Linked DNA regions of Homo sapiens: region 2 is linked to region 1. Evidence: fine-mapped expression QTL. A gene starts in region 1. The other region holds a variant in brackets. All regions are shown on one strand. Distances are from middle to middle.

Region 1 (8,321 bases):
AGCAGTGACATGAGCCCTTACTATCTTACACAACAGCCTGGGAGACCTTGAGGTTTTCCCAGGCTGGGAGGAGACTTGGGGCCCCAAAGAGGCAGGTGTGAAACCACCTACCCTCAGGGCCATGTCACTGACATGTCCTGGTAATGCAACATGTGTGCATCTGAGATGTGGAACTCAGGGAGAAAAATAAGTCCATGGGGCACCTTCTGGGGCCAGAGGAACCAGAAGTTGTCCCAAGTGACAGCAGTGGGCTTGGTGATCAGGAACAGAGGGCAGTGGGTTCACTTTGCCCTGGTTCCCTGGGATTGGAAAGCAGCTCTAGCTCCTGACCCAGTCCAGCCTTCTTTGGTATGTGAACCAGCTCTGCCTGCCCTCCTATGATCCACACTGCCCCACAGCTGAGCCCATGACATCACATTTGCCTTGCCAATGTGACTTAAGGACTTGAGGAAGCTCAGATGTGGGCTGCAGGGAAGGGTGTCCAGTGGGGGCAGGCATCTCCTTCCTGGTTCTCAGCTCTGGGACCCTCAGACCAGGACACACTGTATCTCCATGGCCTCTTGACCCAGCTGGAGTGAAGCAGGAGCAGAAGAGTTCAGTGTTGTTTTGAATGCTTACTGGATGCGGGGCTTGTGCTAGGTCAGGGGATGGAGACTGAGGGGAGACGTGGCCCTGCCCTCAGAAAGTGTCTGTTGTGGTTTAATTGGTGAGTTAAGGAAGAGGGGAAAGAGAAAGAAGCCCAGGAGAACAGCACATTTAAAACCACAGCACTTTGGGAGGCCGAGGCAGGAGGATCGCCTGAGGCCAGGAGTTCAAGACCAGCCTGGGGAACATAGTGAGACGCCATCTGTAAAAAACCCAAAAATTAGCCAGGTGTGGTGGCACACATCTGTGGTCCTAGCCATTCAGGAGCCTGAGGTGGGAGGATCGCTGGAGCCCAGGAGTGTGAGCTCACAGTGAGCTCTGATAGCGCCATCCTGCCACTGTATTCCAGCCTGGACAACAGTGAGACTCTGTCTCCAAAAAAATAAATAAAACCACAGAAGATGACAGCATTGCCTTAAGAACTATGAAATGCTACAGGCAGGAAAAGTCTCTGCTCACTTGCTGTGTGTGGGGCACTGGGCCAGGCCCTTTCCCCTGTTTCCTGTGTCATTCTCATGCGTCCTGAGAGTGGAAATAAGTATTAGCAGTTGCCATTTACGTGCCAGCCACTTTTTAAAGTGCTTTAATCCTTAGAACTCACTAAGAGGTGAGTATCACATCTCTGTTTTATGTCAAAGACTGACACCTGGGAGTGTCTGCGGTGGTGGTGGGGAGGCTAGAACCCGGGTCTAGTCAAGGAGGGGCACTGGGAGAGAGTCCGGGAGGCTGATGGTGGGGAAGGAAAGGCATTCCAGGTAGTGGGAACTGCACGAGCATGGTTAGGACCCCAGGAAAGACCCCCGCTGTGTGAGAGCATAGCAGGTGGGTGGCACCATGGGGGAGGCCTTGAACCCCAGGATGACAGATATGGGGCAGGCGTGTTAGACAGTAAGAACATTTTGGAGGTTGTGAGCTAGAGATTCACAAGATGACGCCATGCTTAGGTGGGCTTCCCTTCAGCAAGGCTGTAGGGAAGTGGGAATGAGGGTCTTTCTCAAACTGGGGTGAGGCGGTGAGATTGGAAAAGAGAATGAGACCCATTCTGAAGTGAGGGAGGAGGCGGCCTCCAGCCTTTAGAGCTGAGAGGCTTAGACATCAATTAGCCCGACTGCTGTCCTACTTTGGCAAACAATAATAGACCCCAAGGCCCACAGAAGAGGTTGCTCAACATCACTGAGAGAGATAATGTAACCGCCCATTGGGTTCACCTTACCCTCTGCCTAGACAGAGCCAATTTGTCAAGACAGGGGAATTGCAATAAGGAGAGTTTAATTCATGCAGAGCTGGCTGTACGAGAGACAGGAGGGTTTTTTTTTTGTTTGTTTGTTTGTTTTTTTTTTTTGAGACGGAGTCTCGCTCTGTTGCCCAGGCTGGAGTATAGTGGCATGATCTTGGCTCACTGCAACAGCTGCCTCTCGGGTTCAAGCGATTCTCCTGCCTCAGCATCCCAAGTAGCTGGGACTACAGGCGCCCGTCATCACACCCGGCTAATTTTTGTATTTTTGGTAGAGATGGGGTTTCACTATGTTGGTCAGGCTGGTCTCGAACTCCTGACCTCAGGTGGTCCTTCCGCCTCGGCCTCCCAAAGTGCTGGGATTACAGGCGTGAGCCACTGCGCCTGGCCTGTATCAGTTATAGTTTTTGCAAAGGCAGTTTCAGGAATAAGAAGCAGAACCAGGACTGCAGCCCAAGCCACCACGAGAGGCCAGTCTTTGGGGATGGTCTTTTAGGATGATCTTTGGGGGTGGCCCAAGGAGCCCCAGGCAGCTCCAGAGGCAGGAGGTAGGAGGTCCTGTTTCCCGAATCTGTCCACCCGGGAGAAAGCAGCAGGGGTGGGTGGGTTCTGCCTTGGCCACAGTGAGAGGAGAAGGGAGAGAAGGACTGGGCCTTGGGCGTCCCCCATGGGAGACTAGGAGCTGCGGGGAGATCTGGAGGGGAGGGTGCAGGTGTCACTGGGCCTTGATGTTTCCCAGGGCCGTTTGGTGATGGGAAGAGGGAACTGGAGCCCCAGGCTGCCGCTGATGCTGCTGGCTGACATTTCCGTTCATTCAGTCACTCAGGATTTATTGAGAGCCCACCCTGTGCCACCCGCTGTGCACAGAACACCCAGAGATCCCTGTCCAGACAGACAAGTTCTTCCCATCGTATGTTGGCGTGATAACTGTGATGGAGAAAGAGAGGAAGAGCCAGCAGTGCCTCCGGCTGGGGAGGCGGGGCAGACCTCACCCAGGTGGTGACATTTGAGCCCCAGCTGGAGGGGTGCCAGGGCAAGAGTGCCCAGGAAGAGGGAAGAGCCAGTCCACAGGCCTGGAGACAGAAGGCTGACTGAAGAAGAGTCTGGAGGCTCGGGTGGCTGCAGCAGAGAAAGCAAGGGGGTGGGTGGCAGGACGTGAGGTCAGAGGAGAATGGGCGGCACCCTGTGGCTCACAGATCCTTGAAAGGGTTTTGGTTTTGACTGAGCAGAATGGTGCCATTGCAGATCAACACGCACTTTAAATAATCAAAACCCCTATCTTTCCCCTGGGAAGGAGGAAGCCGAGGAAGGCTGTGTTTCTGACTCACACGGGGGAGTCGGGGGAGTCGTAAACAACCCTGAAGAGAACAGCCAGGCCTGGTGAGTCACTCCTGGGAGTGGCTCCTCCCCACCCTGCCACGCAGCGGCAAATGCGGGCTGGGCCTACCCCCTGGTGGCCACGCTACCTCCGCACCCGGCCTCTCTCTGTGGCATGGGGGCGGCCATGCCCCTTGGTGGAGATGAATGGGAGTGGAGCTGGGCTGGCTGGGCAGGCAGGGGCTTGCCTCTTGCTGACTAAGGCAGCCCTGGAGGGGCCCGACCATGGGGCAGGAACCCAGTTGCCATCCTCAGAGCGAGGATCATTGGCCGGGCTCGGGGATCAGGGCCTCTGTGGTCCCGGCACGCCTGGCCCGTGAGACTGTACTCTGCACGACTCCTCCAGGTGGCCAGGGTCACCGGAACTGGCTCGCTCTCCTCTGCCAGTTGCCGGAGGTCTGGGCACCAGGCCAATTCTCACCTTCCCGCCAGGGTTAAACATTAGTGGGAGGTTATCAGCGTGGGCCAGGGGAGGGAGAGGGGGGAATTCAACTCTGTCTCCTCTGCTGGAGCCACCAGTTCCCGCAAGCCCAGACAATGCCGGTGGAGGAATTTGTGGCTGGCTGGATCTCTGGTGAGACATTTTTCTTCCTTCTGTCACATCACACCCAATGGTAGGTCACTTCCTCGGGAAGATGGGTGACATGGGAGGAGCAGAGACCAAAGTCTGAGTTCCGGCCTGGCGGGAGGATCACTTGAGCCCAGGAGTTTGAGACCAGTCTGGGCAACATAGGGAGGCCCCTGTCTCTACAAAAAAATCAAAATAATTAGCTGGGCATGGTGGCTCACACCTGTAGTCCCAGCTACTTAGGAGGATTGCTTGAGCTCAGGAGTTCAAGGCTGCAGTGAGCTATGACTGCACCACTGCACTCCAGCCTGGGTGACAGAATGAGACCCTGCCACAAAAAAAAAAAAAAAAAAAAAAAAAGAATCAGGGCATGGTGGCTCACACCTGTAATCCCAGCACTTTGCGAGGCTGAGGTAGGAGGATCACTTGGGGCCAGGAGTTTGAGACCAGCCTGGGCAACATAGGAAGACCCTGTCTTTATAAGAAATGAGAGGCTGGGCGCGGTGGCTCATGCCTGTAAGCCCAGCACTTTGGGAGGCTGAGGTAGGTGGATCATGAGGTCAAGATTTCGAGACCAGGCTGGCCAACATGGTGAAACCCCGTCTCTACTAAAAATACAAAAATTAGCCAGGCGCGGTGGCGCACGCCTGTGGTCCCAACTACTCCAGAGGCTGAGGTGGAAGGAGCCCTTAAGCTCAGGAGGTTGAAGCTGCAATGAGCCATGATCATGCCACTGCACTCCAGCCTGGACAACACCAGCAAGACCCTGTGTCAAAAAAAAAAAGTCTGGGTTCCGTGGAGCACCCCAGAGCCAGCTGTCCCCAGTCCTCTGGGGAGTGGCCGATGGGAAGAAGAGAGGAAGGCACAGGTGGGAGGGTGCTGCCTCTGCCTTCCAAGGCCACTCTGCCTGACACCTGCAGAGGGCGGGAGAGCCAGGTGAGCACCCTATACCTTGAGCCCTGCTCTCCAGGCCCACCCTGTTGGGCTTACAAAGGAAGTTCACCTTTGACCTCACCTGCTGTCCTGAGTCCCCTCTGGGCCTCTGCCCCACCTGGCTGTGGGCCGCAGTCCCGGGCCCTGAGGCCTGTTGTGCTGTGGTCCCAGCCCAGCTTCTGGGTGGCATTCCTCTTAGGAGAAAGAGAGGGACGTTCTGAACCTGCCTCCTGGGGGTGCGACCTCCCCCAAACTCCAGAACCAGCCTCTGCTGTGGAGGGCAGGGCTAGGCAGTGGGCAGGTGGAGGGGAGGGGAGAAGCTCCTCTGCAGGTGCCCAGGCATGACCCCCATCAGGGCCCTGCAGTTCTGCGTGGCCAGCTGGCAGCAGGGCCTGCTCTGGATCCCGGCGACGACATTATGAGTTGAAGAAAGAAGAGTAAAGCTCTCGGAGAGGTGGGAACCTGGGTGATTCTCCCAGAGTCCCGCGGCTCATAGGCGGTGGGATACCCGGGTATGGGCTCCAGCGAGGACACGTACGTCTTTGGCTGGCTCTTCCCTCTTGGGTGTGCATCCTCAGGTGGGGCCTGGGGTCTTAGTCCCTTGTCCCAGTGCCTTCCTGGCCCAGTGCCTGTGTGGAGGGGGTGGCAGGGGCAGCTGGAGTCTCTAGAGCTTGGCAGGAAGGTGGCTGCATGTGTCTGAGATGGCCCTGCTCTCCTTCCTCCTGCCTGAACCCCTCTTTCCTCTTGGCACAGACTTGCTTCCTGGGCCTGGCACGAGGGCCCTCACTCATAGCACCCTCTTGTCACCACAGGCGCTCTGGGCTTGGTCCTGGGACACCCGTTTGACACTGTAAAGGTGAGTTTAGGAGAGCTGCCAGAGGAATGAAAGATCTCACCTGACCCAAATGTCAGGGTGCCCTGAGATCAGGCCTGGCTAATCTTGCCTTTCCTGCCTCTCCTGCTGGTTGGCATCCCGCTTGAGGGGGCAGAGGGAAAGGTTGGCCCACCTGCCCATCCCGCCACCCTACCTGCTCTGTCCTCCCACCCAGGTGAGGCTGCAGACCCAGACCACCTACCGGGGCATCGTTGATTGCATGGTCAAGATTTACCGCCATGAGTCCGTGAGTGGCCCACTCCTTTGGGGTCCTTCCCCTTTCGGGGAGGCATCTGGGGCTGTTGGTACCAGCTTCCCTCTCCAGCAGGGTTCTGCTCCTGGAGGAGAGAAGACCAAGTCTGGGATCCTTGGGGGGCCTGGGTGGTAGCTTAGCACCCCAGAGGCGCAGCCTCAGCCCATCCCTGCCTGTCCCCACTTCCCTGTGGCAGGACTTGGGAGCAGTTTCCAGCCAGAGGCTGCCTTGCCAGGGGTGGAGAGGACAAAGGGGAGGCCCCACGGTGCCTACTCCGCTGCCACTGTGTCTCTCTGCAGCTCCTGGGCTTCTTCAAGGGAATGAGCTTCCCCATTGCCAGCATAGCTGTGGTCAACTCTGTCCTGTTTGGGGTCTATAGCAACACCCTGCTGGTGCTCACGGCCACCTCCCACCAGGAGCGGCGGGCCCAGCCGCCCAGCTACATGCACATCTTCCTAGCGGGCTGCACCGGGGGGTTCCTGCAGGTGAGGGGGCAGTGAGTGGGCACACACAGGTGTCATAGGGATGGTCATCTCGATCTGTCCTCTCCCACCCTGCCCTGGCGACCCACAGCTGTGGAGGCATAGGCCTCTTGGAGGGGAACAAGAGGCCTGTGCTATGGCCTTCCAGGCTGCAGGCCTCTGGGGGAGGGCTGTGGGGAACAGAGGGGGCAAAAGGCAGAGACAGCTGGTGGGCAGTGCCAAGAGGGTGCTGGGAGAAGCAGCCTGGGCCACTCGCTCCAGCTGACGGGGCTTGCCCCCCTCCAGAGGGGTCTGCCAGCCTCAGAGCTGTGGGGAGCCCACTCCCCAAGGAGACCTTTGACCCTGGAGAACCACCAGCACCCCGCAGAGCTGTGAGCCCAGCCCCTCTGGCCGGGTCCTGATGAGGTCCTGACACTCCCCTGGCCCTGCCTGGCTCTACACTTTGCCTGCAGTGCTTGGGTGCCCATGACCTGGGAGCCTCACCTGAGGCCCAGCCCAGCAGGGCATTAACCATTCAGGCACTGCCGTCATCTGGGCTTTGGGCTTTAGAGGGGTGGATGGAGGGAAGAGGGACCAGCTGCCGCCAGTGGGAACCGGTGCTGAATGGGTCCTGTGAGCATAAGCAGGGAGAGGGTGCGCCCGGCACCCACTGACACCCCAGCCGCAAGCCAGGGTCGCCCTCTCCTGGGCAGCTGCCCCCAGTTCCTTGTCACACTTCATGGGGCAGAGAGCAAGGACAAAGGACAAAGTCAGGCTGCTCCTTCAAATGAATTAATGATTAATGAGACCCCCGGAGGCCCCGGCTTTTCTTCTGCCCCTTCTTGTGCGAGGTGCCACCTATAGGTTTCCTGAGCCCCGCGAGCCACATCCCACAAACACAAGGAAGAGAACCGAAGCCCTAAGCTAAGTGGCCAGGCCCGGCTTCTAAGTCACCCTGCCCCCCCAGCTCTTTGGAAAGCAGAAGTGGGGACTGTGAGGGCCGCTGATGGAGCCTGGGTTTACAGTGAAACCTGTGGCTTTAGTTTAACAGAGTCTTAAAGGAAAAATGTGTTTTAGTGTGGAGTGGGAAGAAGAGGCAGGGACTGACAGCCTCTGACGGGCACAGACGTTGCCCTGGTCTTCGCCGAAGCTGACCTTCTGAAATGGCATCTGACACTCCACCACCCCTGTGGGGGTGTCTGTCACCTGGTGTCAGCCTAGCCCTGTCCTCAGCCCCCAGGAGCTCAGGGCTCAGAACACCTCCTGAAGCCCTGAGCTCAGCCCTGCCAGCACGCTCTAGAGGGTGGCACAAGGCCCCATCTCCCAAGGGATGGTACCTAACCTACGACCCTTACTCCTGGGACCAAAGTAAACAAGCGAAGACTTGGCCTGCCACACCCTAAGTACCACCACCCACCACCAGAGGCGACCGCCAGCCCCCGTCGCCATCAGCCATCTCCAGGGCTGAGGAACTGAGCCCATGTACCTGTCACAAAACAAACAAGCAAAAAACAGATAAATCCCTCAGAGACAGGCTAGCCTTGACATGGACCCCGATTCTCACCTGGACTCCAAAAGCTATCTTGACCTACTGGCATCTCTGACCCAAATCTTAATTGCCCCCATCGCCCTCTACATCCCCCCAGCACTGACCCTCACCAGGACTCCAGCCCCAATTCCATCCCAAATCTGTGTAGCATCTGCTTCTGCCGATTCTAAGAGCCCTAGCACCTGCCAAGTCCCCCCATTACCCACCTTCCCACACTCAGAAGCCTCTTTGGTGGGATGCTAATGGGAAGGAGTCTTGCCTCTCTGGAGGCAGGAGGGGCTGGCCTTGTGCCCCTCCGGGCCTCTGAGAGGTGGGCGCAGGAGAACAGCACTCACGAGGGGACCTCCTTCACCCTGGGAAAGGGTGGTTTCTTTGCTATTTCACAGTCACAGGCTGAATCCTTCACTTGGCCCTGCCCACCGTACAG
Region 2 (8,321 bases), 150 kb after region 1:
ACGGCAACCATCCGATTTCTCAATCTTTTCCCCACCTTTCCCGCCTTTCTATTCCACAAAGCCGCCATTGTCATCCTGGCCCGTTCTCAATGAGCTGTTGGGCACACCTCCCAGACGGGGTGGTGGCCGGGCAGAGGGGCTCCTCACTTCCCAGTCGGGGCGGCCGGGCAGAGGCACCCCTCACCTCCCAGACGGGGCGGCTGGCTGGGCAGGGGGCTGACCCCCCAACCTCCCTTCCGGACGGGGCGGCTGGCCGGGCGGGGGGCTGACCCCCCCACCTCCCTCCCGGACGGGGCGGCTGGCCGGGCAGGGGGGGCTGACCCCCCCCGACCTCCCTCCTGGACGGGGCGGCTGGCCGGGCGGGGGGCTGACCCCCCCCACCTCCCTCCCGGACGGGGTGGCTGCCGGGCGGAGACGCTCCTCACTTCCCAGATGGGGTGGCTGCCGGGCGGAGAGGCTCCTCACTTCTCAGACGGGGCAGCTGCCGGGCGGAGGGGCTCCTCACTTCTCAGACGGGGTGGTTGCCAGGCAGAGGGTCTCCTCACTTCTTAGACGGGGCGGCCGGGCAGAGACGCTCCTCACCTCCCAGACGGGGTCGCGGCCGGGCAGAGGCGCTCCTCACATCCCAGATGGGGTGGCGGGGCAGAGGCGCTCCCCACATCTCAGATGATGGGCGGCTGGGCAGAGACGCTCCTCACTTCCTAGATGTGATGGCGGCCAGGAAGAGGCGCTCCTCACTTCCTAGATGGGATGGCGGCCGGGCTGAGACGCTCCTCACTTTCCAGACTAGGCAGCCAGGCAGAGGGGCTCCTCACTTCCCAGACGATGGGCGGCCAGGCAGAGACACTGCTCACTTCCCAGACGGGGTGGTGGCCAGGCAGAGGCTGCAATCTCGGCACTTTGGGAGGCCAAGGCAGGCGGCTGGGAGGTGTAGGTTGTAGCGAGCCGAGATCACGCCACTGCACTCCAGCCTGGGCACCATTGAGCACTGAGTGAACGAGACTCCGTCTGCAATCCCGGCACCTCGGGAGGCCGAGGCTGGCGGATCACTCGCGGTTAGGGGCTGGAGACCGGCCCGGCCAACACAGCGAAACCCCGTCTCCACCAAAACCAGTCAGGTGTGGCAGCGCGTGCCTGCAATCGCAGGCACTCGGCAGGCTGAGGCAGGAGAATCAGGCAGGGAGGTTGCAGTGAGCCGAGATGGCAGCAGTACAGTCCAGCTTCGGCTCCGCATGAGAGGGAGACTGTGGAAAGAGAGGGAGACCAGAGGGGGAGGGGGAGGGGGAGGGGGAGGGAGAGGGAGAGGGAGAGGGAGAGGGAGGGAGAGGGAGGGAGAGGGAGAGGGAGAGGGAGAATGGCTTCCTTTCTTAAGGTTACTTCATGGTCAAAGATGGCTGCTGCAGCCCTCAACGTTTTGCTTGTGTTCCCGGCAGCGGGAAGAAGGAAGTAGCAAGAGCCTAATTTTGTATTTTTAATGGAGACAGGGTTTCGCCATGTTGGCCAGGCTGGTCTCAAACTCCTGACCTTAGGTGATCCACCCACCTCAGTCTCCCAAAGTGCTGGGATTACAGGTGTGAGCCACTGCACCTGGCCCATACATGCACTTTAACACTCCGCCTCCCATACCCTCATCCTCTCCAAGCCCTGCTCAGCACCCAGATGAAGACTGTCCTCCCCCACTTGGCCTGCAGGGAATAAAGTGGACAGGGACAGGGGAAGATATGAGGCTCTCGTAGTTGTCCAGACAAGAGACAATGGTGGCTTGATATAGGGCCATGGACACAGGGCTGGAGAGAGAATGACAGATTTAAGTCTATTCTGGAGGCAGAAATGATAGGACTTGGGCTGGGCGCCGTGGCTCACGCCTGTAATCCCAGCACTTTGGGAGGCCGAGGCAGGTGGATCACAAGGTCAGGAGTTCAAGACCAGCCTGGCCAAGATGGTGAAACCCCATCTCTACTAAAAATACAAAAATTAGCTGGGCATGGTGGCGGGCGCCTGTAATCCCTGCTACTCGGGAGGCTGAGGCAGGAGAATCACTTGAACCCGGGAGGCGGAGGTTGCAGTGAGTCATGATCGCACCACCGCACTCCAGCCGGGGTGACAGAGTGAGACAATGTCTCAAAAAAAAAAAAAAAAAAAGAAAGAAAAGAAATGATAGGACTTGCCAAAGAATATATCCTTGATCTCTTGCAGTTCAGCCTTGGCCCATGGCTCAGGTTAGAGATGGAATGTTTATGGGAGTTATTTCAGGGTTGCAAACACAGCACCTATACAGGCCACTGGGTACAGATGGGTCCACCTTTGGGATCAAGCTGACCTTCAGAGAGGGTTACAGACGGGCGCGGCTACTGTTCCTGTCACCATTCCCGCAAACTAAGGGTCTTCCCTGAGCCCACTGTTGCTGAGAAATGCTGCAAGAAGCAGCCAGATCAAGTCCCCTCTTGAGTTTGTTTTAGAAACATTGTCCAGGACATTGCTGTCACCTTAGTGACCTTTCTAATGAGACCCACACTTGAAGCCAAGATGATCTTAAAAAAAAAAAGAAAAGAGGGGTGGGGGGCCAAGCAGTGAAGAGAAACCTCTCCTAGTGCTAAATGCTAAGGAAAGCTTCACTCTCCTGAGGGACTGGTATTTGTTTTCCTTTCCAAGAGCAGCCATGAATGGGGTCTCCCTTTCTGTTGTGAAGAAGCCCAGAACCAAATTTGAAGCCTGCACAGCAACCATGGGAGCCTGTCTTTGCTTCACTTTCCTCCGCTCTCCTCTCCTCACTTCTCTGCCACGTCTCACTTCCAACCCACGTGTTTCCTTGTTCACGGTTTATTCTTTTCTACCTTCGTGATTGGGTCTGTTCTTGGGGAAAGCTAAGCCAGTGCAGATGGAGGTGGGGGAGGCATCTCACAGCTCTGGTGCATCTGGCCAGGACATTTCCGATACGCAGGAGTGGGGAGGGCACCCCATTTGCCCCCCAGTTATTTCCTGTAACTTTCGGCCTCTTGGTGCTGGAGGCCCCTCACCTCCTCTCCATGGCTGCGATGGTCTCCACCAGGGGCATGTTGC[G/T]GGTCTCGGTCAGGACGCAGACGGCCAGCCCAGCCAGGATTGCGGTGGCCCCAAAGCTCACGGGTGGCAGGATGGTGCTGTATTCCCCAAGTGTGGTAACCAGGGGCGCCGTCAGGCCCCCGAGGCGGGCGTGGACAGAGGCAAAGCCCATCCCCATCTGCCTGTGGGAGGTGTGTGGATGGGGATGGGTCAGTGCAGCAACCTGCACCCCTAGGGGCCCAAGAGGGCCACGCCCTGAGTGTCAGAGGACAGGGCAGGAGGGACCAGGGGTCCTGCCTCGGTGAGCCCAACAGGTCTCAACCTGCAGCATCTCCCCCCATGCACCCACCTGATCTCCGTGGGGTACAGCTCGCCGGTAAACAGGTACACACAGATGAAGGAGCTGGCCAGGCAGCCTTTGCCCAGCGCTGCCTGGGCTGTGCACAGGATCTGCGTGCCTAGACAGGGGAGTAGGGTGCAGCTGAGGAGGAGGGGAGGAGAGGGAGGCCCAGGGTGTAGTGGAGAAGGGTGGAGCCTCAGGAGGGGATAGGGCGAGGTGGGGGGAAGAGGCAGAGCCCACTCAGAACCCAGAGGAGAACCAGGATTTCCACCACCTCCCCTTCCCAACTGTTCCTAGGACCCAGGAGTCCCCTGACTGCCCTTCTCTGACTTCTCCCTCCTTGCTCCTTTATTTGCATCTGTCACCAAGTCCTGCTGGGTAGGCAGGTGCTTTAGAGTCAGGCCTGGGTTCAAATTGCAGCTCTCACCCCGCTGGCTGACCTAGGTCAGTGTTTCTTACCCACTCTGCACCTCCCTGTCCTCATCTGTAAAATAAGGAAAATAGCAGCACCTGCTTCATGGGGTTGGCGTAAGCTGGACACAATGCCAGGTGTGCAAAGTGCCCATTAAATGTTTGCCATTGCCTTCATTTTCTTTCTTTCTTTCTTTCTTTTTTTTTGAGACAGAGTCTCTCTGTCACTGAGGCTGGAGTGCAGTGGCACAATCTTGGCTCACTGCAATCTCTGCCTCCTAGGTTCAAGCAATTCTCCTGCCTCAGCCTCCTGAGTAGCTGGGATTATAGGTGTGCACCACCGCGCCCAGCTAATTTTTGTATTTTTAGTAGAGACAGGGTTTCACCATGTTGTCCAGGCTGGTCTCGAACTCCTGACCTCAGGTGATCCACCTGCCTTGGCTTCCCAAAGTACTGGGATTACAGGCATGAGCCACCGCGCCCGGCCCATTGTCCTCATTTTCAATATGCTTCTCCCGCTGTTGTTTATAAGTAGCAAAACCCCTATTCAAACATCCAACGTTAGGACAGCAGTCAAGGAAATGATGGTGCCTTCTCTGGCTGGGTGGCAGCCCTGGCTGCACATTGGAATCAGGTGGGGAGATTTTATAAAACACTCACACCTGGGTCTTACTCAATGTCCACTCTAGCAAGACCTACTGGGGATGGGCTCAAATTTGGGTATTTTTTAAAGGTCCCCAAGAGATTCTATTGTGAGGCCAGAGTTAGAAACATCAATCTAGATGAAATATTATCTAGGCTGGGTGCAGTGGCTCTCGTCTATAACCCCAGCACTTTGGGAGACCAAGGCAGGCAGATCGCTTGAGCCCAGGAGTTTGAGACCAGACTAGGCAACATGGCAAAACCCTGTCTCTACACAAAAAATACAAAAAATTAGCCAGGTGTGGTGGAATGCACCGGTAGTCCCAGCTACTCAGGAGGCTAAGGTGGGAGGATTGCTTGAGCCTGGGAGGTCGAGGCTGCAGTGAGCCATGATTGTGCCACTGTACTCCAGCCTGAGCCACAGAGTGAGACTCTGTCTTAAAAAAGAAAGAAAAGAAAGAAAAAGAAAGGAAGAAAGAAAAGGAGGGAGGGAGGAAAGGCAGAAGGGAGGAAAGGAAGAAGGGAGGGAGGGAGGAAGGAAGGGAGGGAGGGAGGGAGGGAAGGATCACATAGCAATAAAAAATCAGGTCCATGAGGCCAGGCACAGTGGCTCATGCCTGTAATCCCAGCACTTTAGGAGGCCGAGGTGGGCAGATCACTTGAGGTCACGAGTTTGAGACCACCCTGGCCAAAATGATGAAACCCCGCCTGTACTAAAAATACAAAAATTAGCCGGGCATGATGGCACGCATCTCTAATCCCAGCTACTCTGCAGGCTAAGGCAGGGGAATCACTTGAACCTAGGAGGCAGAGGTTGCAGTGAGCACCACAGCACTCCAGCCTGGGCAACAAATGAGACTTCATCTCAAAAAAAAAAAAAAAAATCAGGTCCATGAAACATTTGTGCTAACATGGAAAAGAATGTGTATGTTTCAACATATAATGAAATAAGGGCACTATATATATATATATATATATATATATATATGTACACATGCACATATATACATATATATGTATGTATCCTATTTATATTTTTGTATGTATAAACATATAAAATATCTCAACTATGCTGAATACAAATCTATAAATAGGAAAAAAGATTGGAATGAAATAGGTCAAGACACCAATAATAACATTTATCCATTTTACAGGTGAAGAACTAAGGCACAGAGAAGTTGGACAACCTGCCCACGGCCAAGGCTGCAGTCACAATGGGCACATGGTTTGGCCCATGCTCTATGTCGCTGCTATTCAACCCTGGCGTCTTGCTGGACTCACTGGACAGTTTGTAAAATACTGAGGGTTGAGTTCCACTCCTTGAGATTCCCAGGGCGCTGGCATGGAGCACCTGGGCCCTGGGAGTTTTCAAAGCGCTCCAGGAGAAGGTCATTTTAGCCAGGTTTGCAAACCACTGTTCCAGGGCCAGTCCAGCTGAGGTTTGAATCCTAACTTCTCAACCCTTGGACATGCTGCCTGCTCAGACTTCGGGGGGCCGCACACACTGCTGGCCACACCGAGCCAGCCCCTGTGCTCTCCAGCTGCTTAGGTGCACCTGTCTAACCTCCCTGGCCACACAGTAGAAGCTCTGAGGGCCAAGGCTCAAGACCTCCACCTGCCACTAATTGCCACTGGGCACTAAGTGCTTAATACAAACTCTAGTAATCAACAGTCGCTTTCTTTTTCTTTTTTCTTTTCTTTGAGTCTCACTCTGTCTCCCAGGCTGGAGTACAGTGGCACGATCTTGGCTCACTGCAGCCTCCGTCTCCTGGGTTCAAGTGATTCTTCTGCCTCAGCCTCCCAAGTAGCTGGGATTACAGGTGCACACCACCACGCCCAGCTAATTTTTTTGTATTTTCTGTAGAGACGGGGTTTCACCATGTTGGCCAGGCTGGTCTTGAACTCCTAACCTCAGGTGATTTGCCCGCCTTGGCCTCCCAAAGTGCTGGGATTACAGGCGTGAGCCACCGTGCCCAGCCTAACAGTTGCTTTCTTTTCAGATCCGGAGACATACCCTTCAGCCTTGCTGCCATGTGAAATTTGTTGTCTACCAGACCCCAGAGGCTCCCAGTTCTTGGTGTGCAGCAAGGGCAGAAGTGGGTGACTCACCTTCTGGCACAAACATGTTGGCGATCACCATGAGCCCGGCCAGGATGAGGAAGGAGGCCACCGTGGCACGGCGGCCCACGTAAATCATGGTGGCGGTGGCCACCAGCATGGCCGGGGTGTTGATGATTCCAAACAGGGCCTGCACCAGGTATAGGCTGAGCCCAAACTTCTGCAGGTCCATGGCCAGGCCATAGTAAGCCACAGAGTTGGAGAACCTGGGAGAGGCAGTGGAATGGTCCTTGTTCACCCCATGGTTCACTGTTGTGAGCCCAGGGGAGGGGACACAAAGGTGGATGACACAGGATTCCTCTCCTCGGGGAGGTAAAATTCCCTGACTTTCCATAAACACCCCTTCACGGTCTCCTAAGTCTCTGTCTTTAGTATTAGAGCTCAGACCCCTCCCTCCACATCCCTTTCTACCACCCACTCCTGGATCCAGTGCATGGGTTCTGGAGTGTTTGCTTTTCTCTGCAGTACCCACCTCAGCGCCGAAATTAAGGCAGTGCTAAAAAATAAAAAGAGAAGAAGATGGAGGAAGGTCAAAGGACACAGGAGCCAATGTGGAAGAGCTCCCAATGGCCAAAGCTGGAGGAATTTGGGAAATAAGGTAAAGAATGTAGTATCTACTAAATAAAGGAAAAACGTTGTTGAATTATAACCCAAAGTATAAACTACATGGTTACACATGAGCCTATATAAATAAATGATTTCATAAATAAGTCTTTCTTAAAGAAGAACTCCAAACAATGTGTGTAAATACTCCACTCCTAGGCTGGGCACGGTGACTCATGCCTGTAATCGAAGCACTTTGGGAGGCCAAGGCGGGTGTATCATGAGGTCAGGAGTTCAAGACCAGCCTGGCCAAGTTGGTGAAACCCCGTCTCTACTAAAAATACAAAAATTAGCCAGGCGCCTATAATCTCAGCTACTCAGGAGGCTGAGGCAGAGAATTGCTTGAACCTGGGAGGCGGAGGTTGCAGTGAGCCGAGATCGCGCCACTGCACTCCAGCCTGGGCAATAGAGGGAGACTCCATCTCAAACAAAACAAAACAAAACAAAACAAACAAACAAACAAAAAAATCCATTCCTTCAGGAGATGAAACTTAGTTTCCCTCCCCTTGAGTGTGGACTGGACTCACTTTCAAATAATAGTATATGGAAAGAGGCTGCTCATGGTGGCTCATACTTTTAATCCCAGCACTTTGGGAGGCTGAGGTGGGTGGATTGCTTCAGCCCAGGAGTTCAAGACTAGCCTTGGCAACATGGTGAAACCCCATTTCTACCAAAAGTACAAAAATTCGCCAGTCTCATAACCTGGTCTCAAAATAAATAAATAGATTAAAATTGAAAAGTAAAACAAGAATATGGAAAGAGAACATTTATTAACTTTACAGTGGAGAAACCTGGTAGACACTACCTTAACCAAGGGATTAACTTCAAAATCACCAGTAATCAGTCATGTTGACATCATATATGCCCTCATATGATATGATATGATATGATGAGAAGGTCATATCACCTCCATGGTTCTCCTTTCCCAAATCCACAATCCCAGTTTAGTCATGAGAGAACCATCAGACAAATCCAAATTGAGGCCAGGTGCAGTGGCTCATGCCTGTAATCCCAGAACTTTGGGAGGCCAGGCCAGTGGATCACCTGAGGTCAGGAGTTCAAAACCAGCCTGACCAACATGGTGAAACCCCATCTCTACTAAAAATGCAAAAATTAGCCAGGTGTGGTGGCATATGCCTGTAATCCCAGCTACTTGGGAGGCTGAGGC

Evidence for each region.
Region 2: its variant is fine-mapped to the expression of SLC25A45 in whole blood (TOPMed, PIP 0.94).

The regions. Positions count from the first base shown.
Region 1 is chr11:65,377,424-65,385,744 of GRCh38, reverse strand. It overlaps SLC25A45 (solute carrier family 25 member 45), which reads left to right and starts at 3,099. Exons shown (of 7, transcript NM_182556.4): 1 at 3,099-3,259; 2 at 3,776-3,830; 3 at 5,570-5,613; 4 at 5,807-5,878; 5 at 6,184-6,369. The coding sequence starts at 3,794. It also overlaps a transcript of FRMD8 not described here. RefSeq lists a silencer at 1,673-1,967 and enhancers at 1,879-2,405, 2,734-2,933, 2,944-3,253, 3,153-3,447, 2,934-3,461 and 4 more.
Region 2 is chr11:65,231,585-65,239,905 of GRCh38, reverse strand. It overlaps the pseudogene SLC22A20P. Among named protein-coding and RNA genes, the nearest start is that of POLA2, 26 kb to the left of the region's middle. The variant G/T (reference allele first, on the strand shown) is at 3,061.